3 separate regions of the Homo sapiens genome follow, and regions 1 and 3 are each linked to region 2. Evidence: fine-mapped QTL for protein levels in blood plasma. A gene starts in region 2. Each other region holds a variant in brackets. All regions are shown on one strand. Distances are between the middles of the regions. Region 1 overlaps CHCHD6 (coiled-coil-helix-coiled-coil-helix domain containing 6). Region 2 holds the start of CHCHD6 (coiled-coil-helix-coiled-coil-helix domain containing 6). Region 3 has its middle 10 kb from the start of PLXNA1.

Evidence for each region. A credible set is the group of variants that fine-mapping cannot tell apart. PIP is the chance, under the fine-mapping model, that this variant and not a neighbour inherited with it causes the effect. The UK Biobank Pharma Proteomics Project read protein levels with antibody pairs (Olink). The fine-mapping took linkage between variants from a reference panel, not from the people measured, so its PIPs are less certain.
Region 1: its variant is the best candidate, but not a certain one, in a credible set for the plasma level of the CHCHD6 protein (UK Biobank, PIP 0.62). The variant lies in the coding sequence of CHCHD6. If it changes the protein, the assay may bind it differently, which can mimic a change of level.
Region 3: its variant is the best candidate, but not a certain one, in a credible set for the plasma level of the CHCHD6 protein (UK Biobank, PIP 0.76).

What each region holds. Positions count from the first base shown.
Region 1 is chr3:126,953,993-126,959,924 of GRCh38, reverse strand. It overlaps CHCHD6 (coiled-coil-helix-coiled-coil-helix domain containing 6), which reads right to left. Exons shown (of 8, transcript NM_032343.3): 7 at 2,374-2,509. Among named protein-coding and RNA genes, the nearest start is that of PLXNA1, 26 kb to the left of the region's middle. RefSeq lists enhancers at 1-15, 5,205-5,294. The variant A/G (reference allele first, on the strand shown) is at 2,454.
Region 2 is chr3:126,701,560-126,707,491 of GRCh38, reverse strand. It overlaps CHCHD6 (coiled-coil-helix-coiled-coil-helix domain containing 6), which reads right to left and starts at 3,252. Exons shown (of 8, transcript NM_032343.3): 1 at 3,093-3,252. The coding sequence starts at 3,179. RefSeq lists enhancers at 2,001-2,552, 3,613-3,672 and a silencer at 2,863-3,062.
Region 3 is chr3:126,969,758-126,975,689 of GRCh38, reverse strand. No RefSeq gene overlaps it. Among named protein-coding and RNA genes, the nearest start is that of PLXNA1, 10 kb to the left of the region's middle. The variant A/G (reference allele first, on the strand shown) is at 3,425.

The DNA.
Region 1 (5,932 bases), 250 kb before region 2:
GGCAGGTCCCCTGCCCCTGCCCCCTCAACCTGCTGCGGTGTTTCTGACAAGCACCCTGGATATAGAAGAGTCTAACCCAACTCTGCTCTGCCTCATCAAGGCCTCCCCTCTGTTCTCTGATTTTTCACAGCTCAGCAGGAGCCTGCTGGGATGCTGGGGTCCGCACAGTCAGGGTCCTGTGGTGGACAGCCTGAGGCCCCTGTCCTCATCTGAGATGCCCAGCACATCTGCACACAGGCAGGTGCCAGGCTCTGGGCCTAGGCATCACCTACCTGCCCTAGGAGCCCCAGGGCAGATGTTAGATCCTGGAGAGAGAAGCAGTGCTGCCCCACCCCAAGGCCCTTGACCATGTGGGCCTCTGTCCCCTGCTGTTTGGCCCCTTGCATAAGCAAATCCCTCTTAGGGACCCTTCACTCCCCGCTCTCTGGTTCTGCCAGCAGCCTTCTGAGGCGAAGGCTGGCGAAGGGTGGTGAGAGTTTCTCCAGCACTTGCCACATCTCACACACAGGGCACCACCCAAGTGCCTGGGTGCTGGGGCTCCGAGGGAGTCAGGTTGAATATGCCGTCTCCAAATGCACACACACTGCCAAGGCAGCACGTGGGGAGAGCAGGCAGGCCTCTGGCACTGCCATTGCTCAGTCTCTGGTTTCTTTGCTAGTCATGTCAGGGGTAGGGGCCGGGAAGGAGGGAGCCAGACCTGGCAGTGTCCCAGAGCCTCTCTCAGGGAATACACTGGGGTTTAATGTGATCTGTCTTCCTTGGTAATCACATTTTTGCCTTGGTGCGAGGAAGATATATTGGTGAGGTGTGTTTGTTAAAGAAATACTCTTAGGGGTGGTGGGTAGGGGCTGAAAACTACCACAGAGGTGGGGCTGGATGGAGAGAGGATGGAGTCTAGGGCTGGCCACTGAGGCGTAGGCCCTGCCAGGAAGCCAAGAGGCTGCAGCAGATCCCTCGGTAAAGAGTTAGGTGTGTGATGAACAGAGACTCGGAGCTGCCCTTGATTGGGTGTGTGGAGGATCTGGAGGCTTCACTTTGCTGGTGAGTAGGGAGCTAAGTGTCTGGTCGGTGCGAAGGGCCCTGGTCTGGCCCAGCCTACCCAGTGCCCCAGCGCCTCCTGCCCACGTGGAAGCAGAGTGAGCAGCCTTCCATCCTCTGAGATGGAGGAGGAGGCCGCCTGTCCTACCCAGGGCTTCCCTCTCTTGGAAGGCTGACAGAGGCCTTGCGACCACTCATCCTGTGTGGAGCTACTTCTGGGCTGTGTTCTGGCCATGAAGGGACAGTCGGTGCTGGACGGGGCTGTGACCAGCAAAGAGTGGAACAATCAGCCTTGGCAGATGGGTGTGAGCAGGGCATGACCCAAGGAAGCTCTTGCAGGCCTGGGGCTGCAGGACCCCGCTCAGTTCAGTGGGACAGATCTCCCCTTGGACATGGCTGGAGAGCACAGAGCATCTGGCCTCAGCCTTTTCCATCCCAAGTACCTAAAGCAGCCTGTCTCCTACTCAGGCCAAAGAGGCTTTTACGTGGGAAAGGAGACCTCGTCCTGTTGTTTCTCCCATACATTTTCACAAACAGGCCGCACTCCTTGGGGAGCCCAAACTAGGTGTTCTGAGAGTGAATGATGCTCCCCAAGGTGGGAGCTGTCCTGTTGGGGTGGGGCAAGGGTGAGGTATGGCTGGGAACAGCCTGACTGCACCAGAGGACGCTACGGGACCTGGGAAGGGGGAGGACTTATCTAGGATAGAGAGCAGCAGTTGGGGGTGGGGGAGGAAGGCAGTAGGAGCTGGCTGGGAGCGCATCACAGGCATCCAGGACAACCGAGGCCCACTGGAGTGGGAGGTGACCAGAGAGCACATGAGGCTTGGGACCACTCACCAGGAAGGCCAAGCCAGCACACCCCTGTAGACCAGCTCAGGGCAGGGTGGCTGTGAGCAGCTTCTGATGGCCACATCTGCTCCCACTCCTCTTCCAGATGGCCTATCCTTGCTGGGACCCCCACTCTGCACTCGGGCCTCTGCCACCCTCCCACCCCTAAGTGCCGAGGGCTAAGAAGTCCCCGGCACCCACAAGGGGCCCGGCCCTTGAAGGTGGGGCCTGACTTTACCCAGCCTGCTCCCACCCAGCCTAATAGGGCAAACGCAACAGGGATCATCTCCCTGGGGCCAGATGTCCAAGGCGCTCCTGGAAGCAGCCAGGAGAGTGTGCAGGTGACTGAGGAAAGCGAAGAATCCCTCCCTTGGCAAATGCAGAGACCTCCAAGTGGAGCATCTGATTCTAACAGGAAAAGGCAGGCAGAGATCTCCAATGCTAGATAGAGGTACCTCGCCTACCTCCCAAGGCCCTTGGAAACCTGGGAGGCAGGCAAGGCCTTACCTTGTGGGCGGCGCTCACGCAGCGCTGGTATGCCTTGACCAGGTCCGAGCACAGCAGCACCTCATGCGGGCGATCTCGGT[A/G]GCAGTGGAGAATCTGGGCCTGCAACCCTGAGCAGACGGGCTCCACCCTGCGGGGCCTGCAGAAGACAAGAGCAGGCAGGCCTGGGGCTCAGGTGCCAGCAGGCAGGGGAGAGAAACAACTCACATTCACTCCACCTACCTCCCAGGCGCTAGGCTAAGTCCCTGACACCCAGCAGCATCCTTTTAACCCTCAAGGAGAAGCACTGTGCTTTCCCGTTCTAGAAATGAGAGGACGGTCGCAGGGTCAAGCCCTGTGGTGGGTGGCTTAGGCTCACAATATAGCAGACACTGAAACATGCTGTGGTATGGGGCTCCACACCGGGCTCCTTCACTGGGGCCTGTGTACACTCAGGAGACAGGAAAGCCCCACTGGAGGGCCCCCATGAGGATGGTGCAGCCCGCCTCCAGGACAACCCGCCCCGCTGTGCCCAGGATAGCCATCCCTTTATGCCTGAGACAGCCCGCCCCACTGTGCCCAGGATAGCCGTCAGCTGCTTTCCTGGGCTTTCCTGTGCCTGTGGTTTACCCGTGACTATAACCATGTGACTTATTTTTTTTCCTGATTTAAAACTAATATGCGTGCAATAAGGAAAATGAAATCTACAGAAATGTCTAAAGAAATGAAAAATGTTCTTTTTACTTCTTAGAGGTAACCATTATAATATTTTGGGGGTAATTTACTATTTTTTTCTTTCTTTTTCAAAGTAGTTTTAGAACCCACAAAAGTGAGTAAGTTCACTTTCTAAAGTTGTGGAAAAAAAGAGCAAATATAGATAAACTAAAGTCAGTCACTGGCCCAGCCTCCTGAGCGTAATTTTGGATTGGTTGGTCTCCTTCCAGATTTCTCTCTCTCTCTCTCTCTCTCTCTCTCGTGCGCACACTGACACACACAACAGCACATTCGTGCACTCCCTGCCAGCCAGGTGCTGTCCTCCGGCTGCTGGGCGTGCTCAGTGCTGCTCCTTACAGCTCTGGTAGCAGACACTATCGTTCATCATGCTGTTCACACAAATGAGGAAACTGAGGCTCAGAGAATTAAGGCCATGCAGCTGGACAGTGGAGGAGCGGGACATATTTATTTACATGGCTTTGGATGTACTGTTGCTGCTCATTTGTTTTCTTAAGTGGGTTTTAGGCCAGGACCCTTCCCAGCTGTAGACGGACCCACTGTAACACTTAACAGCCTTTCCAAATTGAACACCACTCACGGCTGAGGGCACCAAAAAGAGCTGTAAAAATGTAGAAAGCCATTCCTCAAGTTTCTTAGCAATAGAAAGGATCACTGTCACACATGCCACAGCTCCACTCCAGGTACGTGGAGAGAGAGATATGTAGGTCAGTTGCTCTCCCACCAGGGTCTCCAGAGCCGTTATCATCTAACGATAACTTGAACACAGTTCCTCAGCTAGAAACCACCAGCACCAGGATGCTCGACAGCTTGGGAACAGGACCCCATATTTAGCTGTCTTGCTCTGGAAGTCTGCGGGTGGACACTTCTGTACACTGCTGACTTAGCAGTGATGCCACCTGGGTCTGGTCTTCCCTTCTCGTCCATGTCATCCCCAGGCCACTGTATGCAGCGCAGTCCTCTCTGCAGCAGAGGTCAAAGGGAGCAGGGAGGAGCAGGTCTCTCTGCTGTCTCATCTGACTACGCGGGACAATGCTCCCCTCAAACCCCACTCCAGGTTTCTCCTCCACTCACTGTCTAGGACCAGGTCACATACCCATGCCTAACACCATCGCTAACATGAGCAGTGAGTGTCCCATGTTCAGCTAAGGCCAGCAAGACCCATCCCCAGGGCATGAACAAAACGAACAGTCCCTAAATTAAAGACGGGGAGGGATGAGTGTGGGGTGGGGTGCAGCCGCCTGTGACTGCCATGCCACACCAGCGCCAAGGTAAAGGATGTGAAGGGAGAGCACGCCTTCCCCTTCCTGCCAGGGGAGGCCATGGTGGCCCAGCCCTGGCCTGGGTCCTTGAATTCCACCCCATCCTAGCCATTGAGGTCACAATTCTGACTCAAGTCTGCATTGCATGCACCAAGTCTTAAAGGGTCCTCTTATTTCCTGAAGAGGACTGGGTGGGGGGGGTTTTATCTGCATTGACTTCTCGTTCTTACATATGCAGGGCAGATGAGCCCCTGGTGTGCAGTCCTCTGCCCAGCTCCGGAGACCCGCTTCACTGGCCTGCGTCAGCTGCCGCACAGGCGGCTGGGGCAAGAATACAGCTGGGGTGTCTGGGGCAGCCCCTGATTTGTCTCCAGGTGCTTAAGCACGGCTCCACATCTGTATTTAAGAACTGTGACATGGGTGTGTCTAGTTGTGGGCTTTTTAGGCTGCTTCTTCCTTGGGGGACGGCTGGCCTCATGGCATTTCGTCTCAGGCAGGTGTTCTCAGGGACTGCACATACAGCTTTGGTTCTGAGTGTTCTGACACCTGTTTTAGGAGCACTTTCAAGTCACAGGCCAGGCTCTCTGCCTCCATCGCAGAGGCCTCCCCTCCTGTTCTGCTCCCTGAGTCTCCAGCCTTAGAAGGCTGTGCTCTCCCCTCCCCAGGCAGGGTTAAATCTGCAGGGCAGTGGGTGCCTTCAGTGGCACTGCCAGTCTCCCTGGGCTCTCTCTTGTCACCTATACTGCTGTCCCCTCATACCAGCCTCTTGCTGTGTCTTCTGTTCCTCCTGACGGTGCTGGCCCTCTAGAGTCTGAGACCCCAGAGCATGACTTCCATCATAGCCTCTGCTGCACTCCCCTGAAGCAGGACCCCACCCTGCCCTCATGGGGCCCTGGTGAGCCTGGTTCCTGGCTGCACCGTGGAGGCCAGCAGGCACTGAGGGGACCTGTGTGTCATGGTGAGTGGCTCAGGGGAAGCCCCAGGCTTAGTCAGGGCAGAGCTGTCCTAAGCTGTAACTCTGTGAGGCTTACTGATCTATGTGAAAAGAGGTACCATAGACAGGACAGGCGGAGGCTAAGTGGCCCCAGCCTGAGTCATGTGGCTGAGCCTCATGGAGCTGGAGGGCTGACCTGCTGAGCCCTGCCCTCTACAGAGGCACAACAGAGACGCCGACACTTTGCAGAATGGCGATGTGCAGGAAGACACAGCCACATTTGCCCCTCTCCCCATGGTCAGCCTGGCTGTGTCCCCTCCTCACTGGCTTCTCCTACTTTAGTTTCAGGTCCCAGGACAAGGGCCTCTGCATTTTGAGGGCAAACCTCGCAGTGGGCTCCCAGTTTAGGAGAAACTGGGCCATGGCGAAATCTATCCCCTCCTTGCCAGTATCGCCCGTGGGACCATGACAGCCTCTCTCTCCTGGGACTTATCAGAACAATATGAGGAGACAGAATGGAAGGCAAATGTCAACTGGAAGAAATTTCACCCATTTGTCCACAAAAAGGCTCTGAATGGGATAAGACAGGGAGAGCATAGCTCTGGAAATGAAAAGCTTTCTCTGAAGCAAGGCAGGGCTAGGCCTTCGGTGAAGC
Region 2 (5,932 bases):
GCCTTCTCTTACTGAAGGATGAGGTTAAATGTACTGGTTAAAACAAAATCTTTACGTATTTCACACATTTGCTCTGAAAACTGGAGTTGAATATAACTGCAGCATTTTGCATTCATTAAATTTCTTTTACCTTCCATGGAATTACGGTTTGAACACACTTTGTGAATTTATGCAAACTAAGTATGTAAACTAGCAAGGCCTAGCACTTAATCTTTTTTTTTTTTTTTTTTAAGACGGAGTCTCTGTCACCCAGGCTGGAGGACACTGGCATAATCTCGGCTCACTGCAACCTCCCCCTCCTGGGTTCAAGGATTCTCCTACCTCAGCCTCCCAAGTAGCTGGGTGTACAGGTGTGTGCCACCATGCCCAGCTAACTTTTGTATTTTTGGTAGAGGCAGGGTTTCACCATGTTGGCCAGACTGGTCTTTAACTCCTGACCTCAGGTGATCTGCCCACTTCGGCCTCCCAAAGTGCTGAAATTACAGGCATGAGCCACCACTACCAGCCACTAACACTTAATCTTACAGGGACGAGAACACTTTCTAAGACCAGGCCTCAGGAATTAAATACAAATGGTCATTAAGAATATTCAACTTGCTCTAAAGAAGCTGGGGCAGATCTTCTTTGGCATCTGCTTCTCATTAAATGAACTGATTTGTTCCCTTTGGCAACTGTTTTGTTGATCTGGCAATCTTTTTCACTCACTTGCCTAAAGACAAGGTGAATTCCTCAACCCTCAAGTAACTCTGCTAACAGAAAAAGCCTCTACACCAAAACATCCTTTCTTCATACCATCACCTCCTTTCTTCAGTTTTCCTCTTTCAAACACAAGCAGAAGGAAGGACGTGGCTCTCATAACGTGGGGCTGTGCACCTTACTGTGCACCTCTGGACAAGTCATTTATCCTCTCTGATTAGTTTGCCCAGCTGGAAAAGAAAGCAGTCAGTCACCAAAGTTCCTTCCAGTTTTAAAACTAAGTGGGGCACTATCATCCCTGTCAGGACAGGTATGGGTATTGTCACAAAATTTTCAGGCTGCCTTGCATACATCATGGGGGGGAATTGCAGAAGTGAGAAAAAGTTGCTTTTTGCACCGAAAAGATCTTAATTAAAGTCCCAGAAGTTACTCAGGTTAACACCTTGGGCAAATTCCTTAACTCCTTTAAGCTCAATTCTCCATCTTTAAATACAGAGAATTTATATGTTGCAGAAGTATTTAAGAGAACTAGAAATGAAATGTACCTGTCTTATATAATACTCAAAAAACATGAGGTTTCCAATCAACTTGAAAGAAGGCACCCCCAAAGGCACTCCCCTGAACCTCTGAGGACTCCAACTTAACTTTCCAACATTCCCCAAAACAGGAGACCAAATCACAAGGGTGAGAGCACCCAAACAGAGCCAAGCTTATCTTTCTAAATTCCAATTCAGGTTCCTCCCTCTCGGCCTTCCAACACAAGCCATCTCCTCCCCCATTTAATCCTTGCCACGAGTGAGGTCCACAAAACTATACAACGCCTAGCAAGCACCAAATGTGCCAAGTACTCTGCTAGGCTAAGAAGAGAGGCCTCCACAAAGCACTCTCTCTGTGCGTTTCCTTAACACTTTCACAGACATCATCTTATCCTAGGCAGTACCTAGGATACATACACACCCAATTTTTTTTTTAATGTGGCCATTGAGGCTCAAAAGAGTTTTTTACCCAAGGTCACACAGCTAATGAGCACCTGCCAGAACTCCTGAAGTCTGTCTTTCTAAGCCACCTCCCTAATTCCTCCTTAATTAACTAATTCATCTACACCCAGCTCTGTGCGTTTCATTTAATCCTAGTCCCTTTTACTGGGTTCATTCATCTCTCCACAGTTACTTACAAAGCACCTGCAGGTGTAGACACAGGTGGAGGAAGAGGCCGAGCACAGCAACATGCCCTGGAATTGGCTTGTTTCAATCCCAGCTCTCCCACTTACTATTTACATGATCTTGGATCAGTTCGTTCACCTCTCAGTGCCTCACTTCTCCTTAATCTACAATAATGGGCTAAATAGGGCTGTTGAAAATTAAATCAGTTAACTTATAAAGGGTTTAGTCCAACGCATGGCCCCTACACTGCAATAAGAGCTGCTTTTATTCTTCTGGGTTCTGGGGACAGTCTTCAATCAGACAGGAACCTTAGCCTCAAAAAGCTTACACTCTAGCAGTAAACGCAATAAACAAGTAAACAATTATCAACAGAAGCGATCACTGTGATGAGTGCTATGAAAATAATAAATGTTGGACGCGGGGTGGGAGGTTACTTCAGATTGGGTGGTCAGGGAAGGATTCTCTGGTGATATCTGAATTACAACAAGAATTACAAGAAACAGCGGGATTTAAGGAGAGCTGAAGGAGAGAGAACAGCCGGCGCACAGACCCTGAGCTGAGCCAGCGGCACCCTCCAGGAAAACACGGCGGTCCTGAGGCTGGGGACGAGGTGCGGGTGCCACGCGAGGGAAATGGCACGAGATGCAGTCCCAGAGGGATGCAGTCCCCAGAGGTCGACGGGCAGCGGCCAGCTTTGGAACCAGGGAAGGCATCATCCAAGCGCGCTAGGAACCCACTGGAGGGTTTCAGGCAAGGAAGGGGATCAGATCTGAGCTATGGTTCTTCCTGCGCCCCGCAGATGTGCTGTGGAGAACAGGCCGGCGGGGAAGAGCTGAGTCCCCAGGCAAAGCCCAGGTGGGAGACACCGCGTACCCAGAACGAGATGCGCGCACCTGAGGGGCCACGGGCTGGGAGGCCGGGCGCAAATTCAAGAAACGTAAAAACTAAGCCGACCGGAGCCAGGACGTGGCCAGGGCGTCCCTCGTGTCCCAGGGGCCTCGCACCTGTACAGTTCTTCACTCCTCCTTCCCTGAAGCCCATGTCGCGAAGCTCCAAGGCTGCCAGCCTCGGGCTCGCGTCTCGGCTCAGCCTCTTCCTGGCCTGAGCCCCCGGAGTCTCCCAAGCCCCACGCCCCTCACGCGTGGAAAGAGCCCCGGCCCTGCGCTCCGCCCCGCACCTCCCCCCCGCGCCCGCGGCCTCCACGCCCGCCCCGGCCCAGGCGGCGCCGCTCACCCGGACACCCTGCAGCACCCGGACCCGCTCCTCCTCGTCCACTCCGAAGGACACCCTGCGGCCCTCGCTGCTCTCCGTGCTCCCCATGGCGAGATGCCGCAGGGCCGGCAGCCACCAGACCCGAGACCCGGCTCCAGAGCAACCGGGCCAACAACGCTTTCCAGGACTCGCGCGGCCGCGGCACACGCCAACAAAGCCACGTCCTATTGGCCGACGCCAGAGGCTTCACCAATCGGGTGGCGCTGAGTCGCGGTGCCTTGTGGGGATTGCAGTCCTTCCGTCTGGAGGGGTGGGGGCGTGGCGGTCTGTGCCTGCTAGAGTGCGTTAGGCTGAGGCCGAAGATGTGTACCGGCGGAGGCCCTGGAGTGGAGGGCTGGGTGCAGGACAGGGTCACGTTCTCGCTTTGGGAGCTCCCCCTTGAGGGAGAGCCAAGGGTGATGTTCTGAGGCCAGGAGACGCCGAGACGGCCAAGGCGCTCATCTGGAGGCGAATTTCTGAGGGTTCACTGCTCCATTCATTCAGCAAACACGTGTAGAGCAGCACGGGCTGAGCGCCAGACGAGCAGGGACCTGGCCCTGGCATTACAGCGCCCCTCAAGACAGCGAGTGTCCTGCCCTTGAGAGGTTTACAGTGCAAGGGGAAAACAAGTGAAAAGCCAAACACGCACGCAAGGAAACTGACTGTAATACACGGAAAACTGCATGGCGATGCCACTAGTAAAATGAACAGAAGGAGGCCTCTTTTAATTTCAGTGGCCAGAGCAACCTCTGAGGAAGAAGCTTTGAACTGAGCCGGCGGGAGAGTAGGATTTATGTAGAAAAAGGTAGGGGAAGAGGTTTCCTGGGAGTCTCAGGCAGGAAAAGAGAAAGAGGGGTCATCCCATGGCTGGAAAGTGAGAAGAGGGCAGAGGAGTGGTGAGGACCCAAATCATGTCGGGTCTTGTGAGGCAGGGTCTGAGTGTGGGTTTTATTCTAAACGCCCCGGGAGGACAGGGAATGGTCCTAAGCCGTTAGGAGGCATTGCCCAAGGAGTGTACATACCATGTGTGGAGTGCAGTGTGCCAGGCATTGTGTGTAGGCTTCTTACACAGGACCCTATGTGTAAGGGAGCACACAGACGGTTGCCAGTCATAGACACTGCTACCTTCAAATAAGCCCCTTTTTGTTCCTCTGAGTTGCTGAATGGCTTTGATTTGCAAAAGTGCGCCTGAAGCCGAGCTGAGGAAAACTAGATGGCTACATGAAATAGCCAGAAAATATTTGGAGCTCCTATTGGCAACCTGGAAAGAAAGGGGTGAGGAGGAGAGAATGATTGAGAGAGAGCAGTAAGGCTCTGAGATTGAGAATAGCTCAGGGTGAAGAAGCTAGTAAACATCCCAGAGCTGGTGTGACGATGGAATCTTTAGGAACAAAGGTGTCTGCTAGTTTCATTCAAAATACTTCATTGGCGCACCCCACTCCATCACCTCTGTCGTCCATTTCTTCCCTATAAGCAGAGCCTGCGTAGGGGATTCTGGTGCAAGGAGTTTCCTGGGGGAGCACCTCAGGAGAAAGGAAGTTAGGGAGACAGGCTAAGAGGGGTGGGGACCGGGGGCCGCGGGGAAAACTGAGTAAAGATGTGGTCAGACCTGGTCCTGGGCTTTCCTTTGTCTCTTTTCCTTGGAGGTTTATGATTACTAATTCAATCTCCTTACTCGTTATTGGTCTGTTCAGATTTTCTGTTTCTTCAAGACTCAGTTTGGATAGATGGTATGTTTCTGGGAATTCGTCCATTTCTCCTAAATTATCCAGTTTCTTGGTGTATAATTGTTCATAGTAGTTGATTATGATCTTTTGTATTTCTGTGATATCAGTTGTAATGTCTCCTCTTTCATTTATACTTTTGTTTATGTGAATTACCTTTTTTCTTGGTTAGTCTAGCTAAGGTTTGTTAATTTTGTTGATCTTTACTGTTGATCTTTTCTGTTGTTTTTCTAGTTTCTATTTCTGCTCTCATCTTTTTTATTTCCTTCAGTCTGCTGACTTTGGGGCTTAGTTTGTTCCTCTTCTAGTTCCTTGAGATATAAAATTAGGTTGTTTGATGTCTTTCTTTTTTCTTAATGTAGGTATTTTTCGCTATAAACTTCCCTCTTAAAAATGTTTCTATTGCATCCTATAAGTTGTGGTACCTTGTGTTTCCATTTTCATTTGTCTCAAGATACTTGTTTATTCCCCTTTTGATTTATTCTTTGGCTCATTGGCTGTTCAGGAATGTGTTGTTTAATTTCCGCACATGTGTGAATTTTCCAAAGTTCTTCCTATTACTGATTTCTGACAACAAACTATTCAAAAAGAAATTAAGAAAATGATCCCACTTACAATAACACCAAAAAGAATAAAATATGAATAAATTTAACCAAGGAGGTGAAAGAAAGATGCACACAAAAAATTGCACACTAAAAATTATAAGACACTGTTGAAAGATACTATAGGAGACATAAATAAGTAGAAAGATAGCCTGTGTTTATAGATCAGAAGAATTAATATTGTTAAAATGGCTTTACTACCCAAAGTAATCTACACATTCAATGTCATCATTATCAAAATTCTAATGACATTTTTCACATAAATAGAAAAAACAATTCTAACATTTCATATGGAACCACAAAAGACCCCAAATCATCAAAGCAATCTTGAGAAAGAAGCAGAAAGCTGAAGGCATCATACTCCCTGATTTCAAACTATATTACAAAGCTGTAGTAATCAAAAGAGTATGGTACTGGCATAAAAATAGATACATAGATCAATGCAGAAAAATAGAGAGCCCATGCATATATGGTCTACTAATGTTTGATAATGGTG
Region 3 (5,932 bases), 270 kb before region 2:
TTTCAAGATCCAATAAGAAAATCACCTGTCATAGCAAGAACCAGAGAAATGTCAGTTGTACCAGAAAATACAATCAGCATACACCAATACTGGTATATGTTGAACAGGAAGGAATATCAGGATTACCTGATGAGGCTTTTAAAGCAGCCATCCTAAAGGTGCTTTGATGAGCAATTATGAACATGCTTGAAACAAATGAAAATAAAGAATGTTTCAGCAAGGAAATAGAAGTTATAAAGAGAACCAAATGGACACTTTAGAATTTTTTAAAAACATACAATAATCAGAATAAAAACTTAATCGATAACTCCAAAGCAGAACAGAGGGGACAAAGGAAAGATGCAGTGAACCTGGAGATAGAGCAATATAAACCACCCAGTCTGAAACAGAGAGAAAATAGACTAGGGGTGGGAGAAAAGAGTTCTCTGAGAGATAACAAAAGATCTAATATTCATGTCATCTAATTGCCAGGAGGAGAAGAGAAAGAGGACAAAGCCGAAAAAATATTGAAGAAGCAATCTCCTAAACTTGGCAAAAGACATAAATGTAAGGATTTAAGAAGCTGAATGAACTCCAAACGTTATAAACCCAAGGAAATCCACACCAAGACATATCACAGTCAGACTTCCAAAAACTAAACAACAACAAACCCCAATTTTGAAAGCAGCCACGTAACCACCTTCCAAAAAACATGGATGTCTCATCAGAAAGCATGGAGGCAAGAAATAAGTGGAACGTTTTTAAGTGCCATAAGAAAAGAGCTGTCAACCATAAATTCTATACCCAGTGAAACTATCCCTCAGGAATGAGGAGGAATCAAGACCTTCTCAGGTGAAGGGAAAAGTAAGTTTGTTGCCAGCAAACCTACTGTGAAAGGAGGGCCAAAGGAAGTTCTTCTCATGGAAAGAAAGTGATAAGGAAGGAATCTTGAGACATCAGGAAGAAAGTACAATGGAAAGAGCAAAACTATGGGTAAATACAATGGACCCCTTCTCTGAAGGTTTCTAAGTTACATTTGGTGGTTGAAGCAAAAATTATAGCATTGTCGAATGTCTCAATGTATGTAGAAAAAATATTTAGGATAATTATATTATAAATGGAAGGGGAAAAGGGACACAAAGAGAGGGAAGCTTTCTACATGTCACTCGAAATGGTAAAATGTTGATGGCAGTAGACTGTGATAAGTACATATGTATAATGCAGTATGGCAGCCACTAGAAATCTATACAAAGATATACACTAAAAACACTGTACAAAAACCAAAATAGATGCTTAAATATGTCCAAGTAACACTCAGCAAGGCAAAAAAAAGAAAATAGAGAAACACCACCACCAACAAACACAGGAACAAACAAAGCAAAAAATAAAACAGCAGACTGAAGTTATGTCAGTAATTACAGAAAATGTAAATGGCATAATTCCATTTATATAACATTTTTGAAATAACAAAATCATAGAGATGGAGAGGAGATTGGCGGCTGCCAGGAGCTGGGGTAGGGGGGTGATTGTCACTGTGAAAGGGAGTACCAGGGGGTCTCCATGGAGAGGGAACAGCTCTGTATCCTGGTTACAGGGACAGAAACATGGATCTCCATGTGTGATAAAGTGACACAGGGCTTGACACCCTTGTCACACCAGTGCCAATGTCCCTTTTCTGATGTGTGGTGGTTATGTAGAATGTGACCATTGGGGGAAACTGGGTGAAGGGTACACAGGCTTCTCTCTCTATTATCTTTCCAACTTCCTGTGAATCTGTAATTGTTACAGATTATCATTATTTCAATATAAAAAGTTAAAAAAAATACCTTTGCTGTTGCTCTTACACCAGCACCAACTCCACTGCTGGCGTTTCCTCTTGGGCAGAACCAGTGCCCTGTGCACCCCCATAGAGCTCACAGGCCAGCAGGCCTCTGGGGGCCATACCCAGCAGAGGCCATCACAGCAATCCTGGGCTGGGCTGCCTGGTCCCAGCTCCCAGAGCCATCTCTTCCTTCTCCAGGCCTCAGAGCTCATATCACCTCTTCAGAGGAGCCCCGATTGATTCCCTGATGGAAAATGCATCCCAGTCCCATTTAACCAACTGATAGTCTCTGGTCCATTCAGCTGTTTATTATTCCGGCCCCACAAATAGCAGCTCTGCAAGCCAGGGAGCCCATCTTCTCAGGGGCACAGAGCCTGGTGCCAGGCAGAGCATCCATCAGGGGCTGTGGGGGTGCAGTTGCTATCAGTTGCTGCAGCATCACAAGTCGCCCTAAAATGTAGTGGCTTCAGCCAGTAGCTGCTCTTCTCTCTTATGGTCTCTGCAGGGAATTCAGAGAGGACAGTGGGAAAGGCTGGTCTCTGTCCCAGTGTCCGAGGCCTCAGCTGGGACTTGCACAGGCTGCAGCTCCTCACCCACCTGTCTGGCAAGACTCCCCTGGGGCGGGGCTCTTTGGCAGCTCTGTCTAGCTCTGTGGGGCCTTTCCACAGCCTCTCCAGCATGGTGGCTTCAGGGCAGCCGACCTTCTTATGTGTCCATGCACAGCTCCCATCCAGGGGGGCAGGGAGAGGAAGTACAGAGGAGGAGAAGCGGGGGTTTGGGGCTCAGAAGCCTGGAGGGCACCACCGCTGGGCTACGCTGCATCAGGCAGATTGGTGACAAGCCCCATGGCTCTCCAGGGAACAGAGCACAGCCCCCTCTTCTGGCAGGGGTGACAGGCCCACTGTGCATTGCAAAGCCCTGCAGGACGGATGTGCAGGGGAGGCAGTCTTTGGAAAACACAATCTGCCACCTGACCAGCAGCAGGCTGCCTCCAGGGGCCTGAGCTGCTAGCCTTGGATTCCAGCCCCAGCCATGGAGAGCCTGCTGGGAGCCCCCTACCCACCCCCAGCCCCATGCATGCCTCTTTGCAGCAGCCTGCACTATTGATGGGTTGGTGCATGGGTGGGAGTGGAGCTGGAAAGGGAGGGTGGGAGTTTGGGGATCTCTTCTAACCGCCATGCCATACTCTGCCTCAGCCCTATGGAGCAACCCTGGCCCAGCGGGGAATGCCACCATGGCAGCTGGGGGCTCATCTGAAGGAGCACAGGGTTTGAAGGCAGCAACATGGGGTCCCCTCCCGACACCATCCCTCAGTGCCTTTTCGGGACCACACCACAAATCACGTGGCCCTGGGGTCTCTGTGAGGACCAGAGCAAAGAAATTTGAAGGGCCGGCCCTATGCCAGGTTCCCCAAGGCATCTTGACCACCGGGTGGGTGGGGAGGGGCCACGACTGCCCCCTTTACATGGATGAGGAAACCAAGGCATGAAGAAGTGACAGGCCCCAGGGGCATACTTGGCAACTGCTCTGGACAGCCACAGACGGAGCCACAGAGGCCCCCGGAGGAAGCAGAGAGTCGCCCTCCCCCTGCCAGCCTCTCTTCCTACCCTACCCCCACCCTCC[A/G]TCACGGGGGTGCTTTGTGCTTTCCCCGGTTCACCACGAGCTTTGCACATGATGCTTGTTCTGCTCCTCTGTTCTGGAGACAGAGGGAACAACTTATTTCCCCTGAGGTCACCCTGCTGACCTTCCTCCAGCCCCCGCACAGGCTCCTCCTCTTCTGGGAAGCCTGCCTTGAAGCACCCGCCCACCCGGCCTGGGTTGGGAGCAGCTGCAGCTCACCACAGGGCATCACCCCTTGTCCTGGGCCTGCGTCAGAAGCAGAGGTGTCCCGAGGCCCTGGTGTTGCCAGCATGGTCTGCATTCCACAGAAAATGCGCAGGCAGAACCAGCCCAGCTCTCCTGTGCCCTCAGAAGCCCAGGCCAACCGAGTTGCCCACCCTTCCTGGGCACGTGGTGTGCCAGGTACCAGCCCCAGGGACGCAGGCCCACTGAGGAGGGGGCAGCAGGGCAGCGAAGGGAGGAGCTGGACCTGAACACACAGCACCTAGCTCCAAGCCCCATGGCCTGGAGACCCCATCCAGATGGCAGAGCTTTTTGGGCTCAAGGAATAAACACCAAAATGTTTAAAATATTTAAACATTTAAACATTTAACAGCCAAAGCTAGGTGCAGTGGCATGCGACTGCAGTCCCAGCTACTTGGGAGGCTGAGGGGGGAGGATCACTTGAATTCAGGAGGTTGACTCCAGCCTGGACAACACAGTGTGACTCCATCTTTAAAAACTGAAAAATATGTATATGTTTAACAGCCAGTCAGAGTAGACACCGGACATAAACCATGGGCAGGACAGCACCGGAGGAAGCTGGCTGAAACCCGGCTTTGCTTCATCCCAAGGGACATTCATCAATGTGCTTCCCTGTCTGGCTTCAGGCAGGGCTGAATCCGGGGACTCCCATAATGTCACCAGGCATCTATTTCTTGGTTTCACCTTCCTCTGTGTGCATTCCCAGGTGTGGTGTCCCTACCTGACCCTTTGCTGCAGCCACTAGGAGGAAAATACAAGAGACTTTCCCCAACCTGGAACAGATGCTAGCAGTCTCCCCAACTTACAGCTGCACTCACCTCTCAACTTCACACTATAAGGTGGGGATGGTGTGGGGACAATTGCTCTGATATCACAGCCACCGCCGCCCCAAGTACACTTTACCCTTTGAGTTGTCTGGCCTTTTTTTTTTTTTAAGATGTTTTAATTATTAAAATATATGCTCGTTGTAAAAAAAAAATCCAAGAAATGCATAAAAGGATACAATGAAGTCGGCCTCCCTCCAGCACCTGCCCCCAGCTCACCAGAGCAAAAACTGATATGGGTGTCTCCTGTGTCCATGAAGAGACGTATACACTGTGTCCAACGTGCAGATACAGAGGGACATCCTGCCTCTCTGCAAAAAAACATACAAACTAAGAGCTGCTTTTAGATAGATCTCTCTCTCCTCCCTTCTTTCCTTCCTTTTTCCTTTCCCTTCTCCCTCTCTCCTTCTTATTTCCTTCACATACAATGCAGTCCCCAATCCTTAGGCACACAGCTCAATGAATGCATCTTTACACTTCTACACAAATACATGTGTAATCTCCACAAAACAAAGGTTCCTTCTGACCCCACCCCTCGCCCCCCAGAGAACCCCTATCCAGACTCCTTCACCATAGGTTAGTTTTGCCTATCTTTGAACTTCATATAAACAGACCCATCCAGTACCATGGCAGACATACTCCAGGTCTCCCATGAGTCAGATCTCTATAATCCCCCCCACCTTAAGTGTGTGACTTGCTTCCAAGCAATAGATTGGGCAAATGTGAAGGCATGTCCCTCTCATGATTATGTTACACATACAAGGGATCTCTTTGCTGGCAATGGAGAGTCTGTGAGCAAGTCTCCAGGCAGGGGACGACTGGTGGCCTCTAGCTGAGCTGATAGCAAAAAGACAGCCCATCGATCCTCCAGCAAGATAATGAATTCTGCCAATATCCAGGTGAGCTTGAATGAGGAGCCTGAGCTGCAGAGAGGAACCCAGGCTAGCCACATCTGGAGGGCAGTCTTGGACCTCGCTGCACCACACCAGAGCTCTGACCCACGGAAAGCAGGGGACAGACATATATTGCTGCAAGTGACTGTTTGTGGTCATTAGTTAGGAGGCAGCAGAAAGCTAATACAACCGTGAATTTTTCTGTATCTGCCTCTGTCTCTCACCGCGAGGTGTCTGAGAGATCCATCCATGTTGCTACAGGGAGCTCGAGTGTGTTCTTTTTCGTGATGCTGTAGTATTTCATCGTGTGAATAAACTACAACTTAACCATTCTACTTTCCATGGGCACTTGGGTTATTTTAACCTTGTGGCTGTGATGAGTAAGGCTCTATGAACATTCTTGTGCGTACTATTTAGAGGACATACATATTCATTCTCTTGGGTATTAACTCAGGAGTAAGATTGCTGCATCGCAGTGTAGGCGAATGTTTAACTTTGTAAGGAACTGGCAAGCCATTTTCCGAAGCAACTGTCATCCTTTCATACTCCTC